Linked DNA regions of Homo sapiens: region 2 is linked to region 1. The links come from fine-mapping of genetic effects on gene expression. A gene starts in region 1. The other region holds a variant in brackets. All regions are shown on one strand. Distances are from middle to middle. Region 1 holds the start of PRMT5 (protein arginine methyltransferase 5). Region 2 holds the start of HAUS4 (HAUS augmin like complex subunit 4).

Evidence for each region.
Region 2: its variant is fine-mapped to the expression of PRMT5 in whole blood (INTERVAL, PIP 0.91).

What each region holds. Positions count from the first base shown.
Region 1 is chr14:22,926,308-22,931,675 of GRCh38, forward strand. It overlaps PRMT5 (protein arginine methyltransferase 5), which reads right to left and starts at 3,069. Exons shown (of 17, transcript NM_006109.5): 1 at 2,945-3,069; 2 at 2,190-2,308; 3 at 1,819-1,904; 4 at 1,219-1,353; 5 at 395-507; 6 at 199-248. The coding sequence starts at 3,054. It overlaps PRMT5-DT (PRMT5 divergent transcript), which reads left to right and starts at 3,302. Exons shown (of 3, transcript NR_110002.1): 1 at 3,302-3,445. It overlaps TRR-ACG1-3 (tRNA-Arg (anticodon ACG) 1-3), which reads left to right and starts at 3,394; the gene lies at 3,394-3,466. It overlaps LOC124903285 (a long non-coding RNA gene), which reads left to right. Exons shown (of 2, transcript XR_007064073.1): 2 at 154-595. RefSeq lists enhancers at 1-854, 2,913-3,022 and a silencer at 3,433-3,522.
Region 2 is chr14:22,952,871-22,958,202 of GRCh38, forward strand. It overlaps HAUS4 (HAUS augmin like complex subunit 4), which reads right to left and starts at 4,220. Exons shown (of 10, transcript NM_001166269.2): 1 at 4,046-4,220; 2 at 2,230-2,306. The coding sequence starts at 2,284. PRMT5-DT (PRMT5 divergent transcript) reads left to right here. Exons shown (of 3, transcript NR_110002.1): 3 at 1,461-1,822. It overlaps MIR4707 (microRNA 4707), which reads right to left and starts at 4,159; the gene lies at 4,080-4,159. RefSeq lists enhancers at 3,912-4,041, 4,424-5,003, 5,004-5,332. The variant A/G (reference allele first, on the strand shown) is at 2,107.

The DNA of each region.
Region 1 (5,368 bases):
AAAAGAAAAACTGTCAACCACTGCCAGGCAAGAAACCCTTCCTTGCTCCTTTGCGCAAAATCTGTTTACTTCTTTAAGAGAAAGCCAGTCTGAGACAGAGGGGAAGTAGCAAAATTGTATACTATATATGAAATTCCTGATTCTTATTCACAGGAGGTAAGAGAAGCCACACCCATCCCAGGATTCTCATGGACTCACCCACTGCAATCCTCTTACTATAGTCACACAAAGTCCGGAAGTTGTGCCACCTGTTCAGTCAAATACAGAAAAGTACAGTAAACTAGATATGGCCGACCAATCACCACAGCTCAAGGAGACCTCCCTACAGGTTGCACCCTGTACTTCCCCTCACCCTATCCCTTGCACCCTGGTACAGCAGCAAAGGGAGACATACCACATCCACGTTTTCTCCTCCCCACTGTACTCCTCTGTGTGTGTAGTTGGTGCATTCTCAATTATATCATCTCTCAGGTCCTCTGGTGCCACCAAGGGTACCCGCATCCAGAACTGCACATGAACAGTCACCCTTTTAGAACTCTCTTTTGAACTCATTGGGTCCAGAAAGTTTCCCTCAATAAAAAAAACTTCATCCAGACCTCGTTAATCCCTTTATATGCTTTTCCCAATTTGTAATTTTGTAAGTGAACATGTACCTTATATATAGATCCTTATGTAAATATCTGCCTTGTCTTACGTAAGTTTCCAAAATAATTACATTTACATGTTTTGAAACTCTCTTCATACCACTTTTAGATGGAGAGGTGCGCAATACTGACCTTTTTTTTTTTTTTTTTTTGAGACAAGGTCTGGCTCTGTCACCCAGGCTGGAGTGCAGTGGTGCAATCTCAGCTAACTGCAACCTCCGCCTCACAGGTTCAAGTCATCCTCCCACCTCAGCTTCCCAAGTAGCTGGGACTACAGGCGTGTGACACCCCACCTAGCTAATTTGTGTTTTTTTGTTTTTGTTTTGGTTTTGGTTTTTTATACAGACAGGATTTCACCACGCTGCCCAAGCTGGTCTCGAACTCCTGAGCTCAGTGATCTGCCCACCTCAGCCTCCCAAAGTGCTGGGATTACAGGCATCACCCACTGTGCCCGCCAATACTGATACTTCAATTCTGCCAAACACACCCTTCACTGAATGGCTAGGCACAAGAAGGTACTTAGCACAATCTGACTACTATGATATGCAGCAGGAAAGGAGCCCCTCAGCTATACCATGGAAGAGTGATGGCCAGTGTGGATGTGGTTGGTCAAAACTCTGGCCAGGTTGGTGTTATCTTCCTGATTAAGGGGCAGCAGGAAAGCTGGAAGACCCAAATATGCACCAAAATTCAGCTCCTGTAACATGGCCTGGAACGGAGATGAAGAGGAAAAGTTTGAGCTAACAAGCAAACAGCTTTTTTTTTTTTTTTTTTGAGACAAAGTCTCACTCTGTCACCCAGGCTGGAGTGCAGTGGCACAGTCTCCACTCACTGCAGCCTTGACCTTCCCAAGCTCAACTGATCCTCCCTCCTCAGCCTCCTGAGTAGCTGGGACCACAGGCATGCACCACCATGCCTGGCTAATTTTTGTATATTTTATAGAGATGGGGTTTCACTACGCTGCCCAGGCTGGTCTCGAAATCCCGAGCTCCAGTGATCCTACAGCCTCAGCCTCCCAAAGTGCTAGGATTATAGGTGTGCACCACAGCACCCAGCCTAATAGCTTTAATTTCATTCTATCAGTTAATTTACCAAGTTATTGGGGATGGGAGGGGACCACTCTCCCCACCCAGCTTGGTTAGAAAAATCCAGCAGAGAAGTCAAACAGTCTTACCGCCTCGGAGTTCCTGCGAATCTTCTCCACTTTTGAGTCTGGACGAATCCATGGAGAAAGCTTTCCCACAATTAGCGTATTCCAGTCTGCACTCCCCCACCCAAGAAAGACAAATACTGAATAAGGTTCAGCACTTTACTTGTTCAATTTTTAGTTTTGGGAATCAAGAGTAGAAATGAGAGACAAAGGTTTTTTCTACATAGACATGGGATAGCCTGATGCAGAATAGAGAAGCAAGGAGAAAACAAGTTATCTATATCCCAGGGACTAACAAATATATCCAAGTCAGAAAAGGAGGAGAATGAGGGCCCCGATAAAGCAGAAGTTGTTATTGCCTCTAATAATTAAGGGGCATATGGGATGGTCCCTACCCCTTCCTGACAGCAGTAGGTCTGATCGTGTCTGGGGACCGGGCCGATTCTTAGCAGGTTCCTGAATGAACTCCCTCTTGAAACGCGGATGGAAGACAGGCATGCAGAGGAAATCAAACCTACAACCGCGACAGACCCAGAATCATGTAAAGACAGCAGCAGTGCCAGAGAGCCAAGCAACTGGATTTAGGCTATCTTGATTTTGCACAGCCCTTTCAGCTGCCATCAGTTCAGCCTACTAGGCTGCTGAGTTCAGACCACCTTGGGGGATATCAACTCTGCTGTACTGTGCCTCAATTTCTCCCTAAAACACAGCCATGGGACATATGAGTAAGGAGAAAATGATGGATATCCACAAGTAGAATTTTTTTCTCCTCAGGTGTCAGTATGTTTCCAAGACCATCACATCCAGATTTGCCCCAGTTCTGCCCATGCCTCCCCCGTCAAAATTAGCCTCTTCTCTCCCTTGCCCCCTAACACCTCCTCCCACTCCCAGACAATAATCGCGACCTCCAGGGCCCTTTAGAGTTTACCCAACAACTCTCCCAACTTTGGGACTCAGTGACCACAGGCCTCCCACAAGTTATTTTCCTCACGTTACTGGGTCCGAGGCTCCTCCCCTCCAAAGAGTAATAGTCTCTCCCCTCCTCATCCTAGCCGACCCCCTCACCCCTGCTTCTCCGGGATGACTAGTCTGCCCTTCTCCGTCCCCGAGTTCGGACCCCGCATTCCGCTCGTGGAGGTCCGGCCCTCACCCCTGCTTGGCCACAGCCCCTAGTGTGTCAGCTATTTCGGGGACGCAATTCAGGTCCCTCCCGCTGGACACGCGGCTCCCACCAGCACCCCCGACCGCCATCGCCGCCATCTTTCTCCTCGCGCTGTCCACGCCGGGATTCCTTGATACTAGTAGCCAATCACAAAGTCAAACTAGTGCCCCAGAAGGCGGGACGAGTCGCCTTAACAACCAGAGCGTCTGCCACAGCTCCCGAACAGGAGGGATGGGGAGTGGCTTTTCCTGCCAATCCGCGGGCTGCACAGTGGCGTACGGCATGGATCCACCAATCTCAGGGTCTGGTTCCTGACGAACTTCAATCTCCCAGAATGCTTAGTCTATCTGAAGAACGCCGTTGAGAGACTACACCGCCCATGAAACCCTGCAGTATAACCTTGAAGTACCATCACGGAGAGAAACAGTGCCATCTCAGGGCCAGTGGCGCAATGGATAACGCGTCTGACTACGGATCAGAAGATTCCAGGTTCGACTCCTGGCTGGCTCGGTGGGGTTCCTCGCAGCTTCGCTGCGTGAGCATTTTGTAATTTTCCTTTCCTTTCGCAGCTTGATGCTTCTTTATTATCTTCACGCTTTCATTATCAGATCCTGAGTCGGTTGGGTTATGCAGCCATGTAATGTCAGCTTTTCCCGTAACTACCCTCAAAAGTGTTTTTCTTGTGTCATTATTTACGTCCATATGAACACTGAGAAAACTGGGTTAATGGCTGGTGCTATTAAAATGAGCTTTGTCACCTTACTATGTTACATATTAAAATAAACTGCTAACTCAGCTACTACTTCCTAGTGATTCTAGGAAGTAGTGTTTTGTGTTTCAAACACAAAAGGTGTAAATAAACGCCTAAACACACACACACACCTCAAGATAGAGAAAAGGAATTCATTAATTACAGTGGGCAGCAGTCATGAAATTGGCTGGCATGGAGGCCAGAGAGAATCTACATTTTCTCATGTCATTAGCTGCTAGAGATGGAAAGGAAGGAAGCAAGGAAAGACATAGGGAGGTAAATGGGAACTCCAGAAGGCAGGGGGCCCACTGGTGTTGAGGGCTCGGCAGCAAGGATGGAGAGGAGAACACGGTACAAGAGACCCCACGCAGGCGCCGCTGGCAGAACTTAGGGACCGACTGGCAAGGAGTCCTGAGAAAGCAAAGTAGGGGGTGATGCCTAGGATTCTGTCCATGCAGTGAGCAAGAAATGCGGAAAGAGGGTTTGGGAAATCAGGGTTTGGGTTTGGTCATGCTGAATTGAACGTCTAGGGGGCGCTGTGTAATAGAAAGTTGGATGGAGGTCGCTAGAAGAAAAGAACTGAGGCCATGCGACTGAGATCACCATAGCTCGTTGGGGACAGAGCCATAGGAAATACGAAAAGGGTGTGGGGTAGGATAAGTTCTGGGGAACCCTGGGTGCAATGCAAGTGCCCCAAAAGAATGAAAGCCGGAAAACCGGCCGGGCGCGGTGGCTCACGCCTGTAATCCCAGCACTTTGGAAAGCGGAGGCGGGTGGATCTCCTGAGGTCAGGAGTTCGAGACCAGCCTGGCCAACATGAAAACTCCCCGTCTCTCCTAAACGTGGTAGCAGGCGCCTGTAATCCCAGCTACTCGGCCAGCTACTCGGGAGGCTGAAGCAGGAGAACTGCTTGAACCCGGCAGGCGGAGGTTGCAGTGAGCCAAGATCACGCCACTGCACTCCAGCCTGGGCAACAAGAGCAAAATAATGTCGGGGCAGGGGGAGGAGGAAAGGAAAGTCGGAAAAACCAAAGCATTTAAAAAATGCACCATGAAGGCCAGGCTGGGCACAGTGGCTCACGCCCGTAATCCCAGCACTTTGGGAGGGCGAGGCGGGCGGATCACCTGAGGTCGGGAGTTCGAGACTACCCTGACCAACACGGAGAAACCCATCTCTACTAAAAATACAAAATTTAGCCAGACGTGGTGGCGTGCGCCTGTAATACCAGCTACTCAGGAGGCTGAGGCAGGAGAATCACTTGAACCTAGGAGGTGGGAGGTGGAGGCTGCAGTGAGCCTAGATCATGCCGTTGTACTCCAGCCTGGGCAACAGCAAGACTCCGTCTCAAAAAAAAAAACAAAAAAAAACCCCAGCACTTTGGGAGGCCGAAGCAGGCGGATCACGAGGTCAGGTGATCAAGACCATCTTGGCTAACACAGTGAAACCCCGTCTCTACTAAAAAAAATACAAAAAAAATTAGCCGGGTGTGGTGGCAGGCGCCTGTAGTCCCAGCTACTCAGGAGGCTGAGGCAGGAGAATGACCCAGGAGGCAGAGCTTGCAGTGAGCCGAGATCGTGCCACTGCACTCCAGCCTGGGCGAGAGAGCGAGACTCCATCTCAAAAAAAAAAAAAAAAAAAGCTCCATGAAGCCTGAAGTGATT
Region 2 (5,332 bases), 27 kb after region 1:
TATTATATACAAGGATATTAAGGGGGAATAAGTAATAAACTAAGATCTTAGGAAACGGAAATGCAGTTGGTACATATTAGACAAATAGAATAAAAATTAAGGGACCGTTAGTAGGAATCACAATACACAAAATGCCTCATTCATCCAAAATTAATAGAGTTCTTGAAGTAGGGGGAAAGAAACACAACACGTGAAGTTCCAACTTTGGATGTGATATGTAGTCGCATAAACAAGACTAACAGAATACACTTAGAGTAAGTTAAACGTTCAACTAACCAATTTTTTTTTTTTCTTTTTGAGACAGGGTCTCACTCTGTCACCCAGGCTGGAGTGCAGTGGCACAATCACAGCTCACTGCAGCCTTAACCTCCCCAGATCAAGCGATCCTTCCACCTCCTGAGGAGCTGAGACTACAAGGCAAACCACGATGACTGGCTAATTTTTTTTTTACAGACAGGGTCTCACTACATTGCCCAGGCTGGTCTTGAACTCTTGGGCTCAAGTGATCCTCCCACCTTGGCATCTCAAAGTGCTGGGATTACAGGTGTGAGTCACCACAGCTGGCCCAAATTCTTTTTTATTTTTTTCTTTTGAGATGGAGTTTTGCTCTTGTTGCCCAGGCTGGAGTGCAATGGCGTGATCTCGGCTCACTGCAATTTCCACCTCCCGGGTTCAAACGATTCTCCTGCCTCAGCCTCCCGAGTAGCTGGGATTACAGGCATGCGCCACCATGCCTGGCTAATATTTTTTGTTTTTTGTTTTTTTTTTGAGACGGAGTCTCACTCTGTCACCCAGGCTGGAGTGCAATGGCACGATCTCGGCTCACTGCAAGCTCCACCTCCCAGATTCACGCCATTCTCCTGCCTTAGCCTCCCAAGTAGCTGGGACTACAGGCACCCGCCACCACGCCCAGCTATTTTTTTTTTTTTTTTTGTATTTTTAGTAGAGGCGGGGTTTCACCTTGTTAGCCAGGATGGTCTCAATCTCCTGACCTCGTGATCTGCCCGCCTCGGCTTCCCAAAGTGCTAGGATTACAGGTGTGAGCCACCGTGCCCAGCCTCTAATTTTTGTATTTTTAGTAGGGACGGGGTTTCTCCATGTTGGTCAGGCTGGTCTCAAACTCCCAACCTCAGGTGATCCGCCCGCCTTGGCCTCCCAAAGTGCTGGGATTACAGGCATGAGCCACCACACCTGGCCAGCTGGCCCAAATACTTATAATTGTCAGTAGAGTTGAGTAACCCATGTAGATACAAAACAGCACAGGCATGAGAAAAAAGTGTAAGAAATTGAGATCCTCTGGTTTTTCCATATGCTCAAGGAGCTTTCTTTCCATTTCTTTTTCCATATGCTCTCTGTTGGGGTCTTTTACCTCTACTTGCCAAAACACCCAAATTTTCATTCTTTGGAACATTATACCCAAAGTCTTTTTGGGAAATAAGAAATCTCTCTTTTTCCCTAAGGTACTGAAGCATCCAATATGGAAATAGTCAAGATATAGAAAATGCAAGCTCTTGAAGGATTCAAGATATAGAAAGGATCTGAGATATGGAAAGAACTCAGGATATAGAAGGATCTGAAATTTTGGAGACTAAGATATGAGAATATTTAAGACACAGGTAGGAAGGACACCTTCAAGGAATTTGCTGGCTACCCTTATTTTTATAATATGCTTGCTAACATCAGCATGGGAGCATCTTGAGTTTTTAGCCTACTACACAAGCAGATATTGAACCAACATTAACAGGAATTAGTGTAGTCTGTTTTCCAATAAGAGAGTGTTCAAGGATCTTCATGTATTCCAGTTTCCTCAGAAACACATGCTTCTGTGAGGAAAACCATACTGGGGAAACTTATAAATCCTTTTTTTTTTTTTTTTTTGGAGTCTTGCTCTGTTGCCCAGGCTGGAGTACAGTGGCACGATCTCAGCTCACTGCAAGCTCCGCCTCCCAGGTTCACACCATTCTCCTGCCTCAGCCTCTGGAGTAGCTGGGACTACAGGTACCCACCACCACGCCCAGCTAATTTTTCGTATTTTTAGTAGAGACAGGGTTTCACCGTGTTAGCCAGGATGGTCTCGATCTCCTGACCTCGTGATCCACCCACCTC[A/G]GCCTCCCAAAGTGCTGGGATTACAGGTGTGAGCCAATAAATGCTTTTTACTAGAAAAGGCAAGAACCTGGATAAGACCTCTCTGGATAAATCATCAAACCTTTTGCAAGTGGCTACTCTTACCTTGTTGAAGTATTTCCATCCCTTCTCCAGGTGAGCAGAAATCCCCGGATGCCATTTGATTTTCTTGGGATTCTAATCTGTGGAACCAAGAAGTGAAAGAAAACAAAAAGATGAATAAACAGCTGGCTGCTCCAAGGACACTACCTTATGTTCAAATTTCTGCTGTCCACAAGCTGGAAAGGAACCTCAAGGATGACTTTTACAGAGGGCCTATACCACACATCCTGGGTCCCAAGCTCTTACACAAGCTTTATGGACAAACAGATTTACAAGTGCCAAAACATGTCACATTCTAAGCACACATGTGTTTCCACTTGCTCCAAGCTGTCCAAAAGGAGCATCCTAAAAAGAGAACTTTCCAATTCACTGAGTCTAAACAAGAGGATTCTCCACCACCACCACCATTATGCCAAAGTTAAAACTGAGCTGCAGCTTCCCAGTTATGAGTGAACTGGGGGAAAAGGGAAAAAAATCAAAGTCTACTTTTTCCCCCCAAATAACTCAGCTATCAAATTCCATAATAGTTTTTTTGTGCTTCTTTTTTTGTCTAAGATCTGTTGGTAGTTTTTTTTTTTTTTATCATTAACTCTAGAATCATCCTTCAGGAATGACAAATCATTCCACACTTGAACAACTGGTTTTCACATAACAGCCTAAGAAAAGAGCACCTGGAGGAAACAGCGTGACAAGAAGACTGACAGTGAGGTCAGTGGCAAAAGAGTAATGCAAAGGTGTAATGTGGCTACAACGAGAACGTGAGCTGTGGGTGTTTTGCCAGAACATGGAGTGCGCTGAAAGGAATGACACCAACACAGGGGCAGTAAAGATGGGCACAGTTTGACCTCAGGAGACAAAAATTTTCCCTTGACATTACTTTTCATGTTTTTGCTCTGCCCCTCCTCTCTGCAAGGTATCAAACTCCAAAGGGCAACTGAGCCTCCCAAAGCTGAACAGGCATTGAAGGTTATTATGATTTAACGCTTCATGTTTATAGAACATTTGGTTTACTCGATCGTTTTATGAGTAACATCAAAGTAACTACTCATTTGTTTTCTAACATGGTCTAGAGGGGGACGCAGCTGAGGAGGCAGAATGCTGGGACTTAATTTGCAGCTCGGCCGGCCGTTGCTTCTGAGAACTTAAGGAAAATGCTTTTTTCTGTGCCAAACTTTTCCCACCTGCAAAACTGAGATAACGATTCCTGCCTTGGATGAGACATTAAGAATTAATAACACAATCGACTTGTCAACAAAAGCCACTACTTAGTTAAGTTCAGTGTTTTAACAATTCTGTTTATCGTTGATCTATGACTGCAAATAAAAAGTTTTGCAGGCAAATTTCGCACTTGGAAATGAAGACCAACCCAAATTCCAAAAAGCTAGCTGTTCGTCCCCCCCTAGGGTAAGTGTCCCCTTGCGTTTTTTAGGGTGCCTTTCTTTACCCTTCTTAAAGGTTACAGGGCGTGAACGGCAATCAGGCTCGATTCTCCACCCTCTGCACTCAGACGTGTTAAAACGCTGCTACAGGGACCCAAGCATTTAAATGTTCTGACTCAGGCGTCTTTTAAATTCTTAGAGCTGTCTTTACACGCTGCACTGAACGTTAAATTGATTTTACAGGTTATTTTCACAAGATATGACCCTTACAGGGCCCGAGATGAATCAAAATGCAGAACGGGCTCTCCGGCGCCTACTTCCCTTCTGTCTGGGCGGCCAAGGATTCCCAAGAGCGACGACGGTCTCCGGCCACTGGCCGGAATGACTCTCCCAGAGCTCCTCTTCCCCGAAGCTCCGCCCGCCGACCCTCTAAAGCAAACCTGCACACCCTGGGGCAGCTGAAGCTCTCAAGGCGGTGCCGAGAACCTCGGCTGGGGCGGGCTGGCCAGCAGCGTCTACACCCCAGAACCCGCCCGCGCCGGGGCTCCGGAACCTCTCGTTCGGGCCGGGCGCAGGGGCTGGGGGAAGCGAGGCCCGGAAAGACCAAGCTGAAAGGCCCGGGAAGGGGAAGGAGCCGAAAGTGCACTAGAGGCCGCGACGAAGGAGGTGGAGGCGGGGCCACACTCGAGGCGGGAACGGCAGGCCCCGCCCCTCGACGGGTGCGCGCTGGGTTCCCAACGCCCTGGGTTCGCATGCTCGGGTGGTGGAACCCGGACTGGGAAACAGGATGGTCTCGGAAAGGCTTTTTTGCCCCTTCTCATTAGTGCCTCCCCAGTGAAGGGCAGATGCTGAGAAAATGGTGGTAATTGCTAACATTTATTGAGGGCCTACGATGAGTCAGGCACTACGCCAAGCATTTTGCTTGCCTTGCCTCGTTTTTTTTTTGAGACGGAGTCTCGCTCTGTCGCCCAGGCTGGGGTGCAGTGGCGCAATATCGGCTCGCTGCAAGCTCCGCCTCCCGGGTTCAAGCAATTCTCTGCCTCAGCCTCACGAGTAGCTGGGATTACAGGTGCCCGCCACCACGCCCGGCTAATTGTTGTATTTTTAGTAGAGACGGGGTTTCACCGTGTTAGCCAGGATGATCTGGATCTCCTGACCTCGTGATCCACCCGCCTCGGCCTCCCAAAGTGCTGGGATTACAGGCGTGAGCTACCGCCCTCGGCCAGGCCTCGTTTAGTTCTTAAAGCGTCCTGTGAGAAAGTCACCATTATACTCATTTTACAGAGGGGGAGAACTGAGGCACAAAGGGTTAAGTTCGAGGTCGCCATTTGGGGGGTCTAAACCTGTCCCAATAGCTCTCGGAAGGAACCTTCCCAGACCTGCCACCCAAGCCGCGTCCTGCGAGTCTCCTCACTAAGGCCTGGCTCTGAGGCGCTGCCGCCCAGCCCAGCCCAGCCCAGCCCAGCCCATGCCGGGCACCATACAGTGCTTCCTCAGGGTCACCTTCCTCTCGAATTCCCACCACAGACTCCCTATTAGCGCGCATTCCTCATTCGCCTGTTTTGTTTGTTTGTTTGTTTGTTTTCTTGGGGGTACGGAGTTTCGCACTTGTTGCCCAGGCTGGAGCGCAGTGGCACGATCTCGGCTCACCGCAACCTCCACCTCCCAGGTTCAAGCGATTCTCCTGCCCTAGCCTCCTGAGTAGCTGGGATTACCCGCACGAGCCA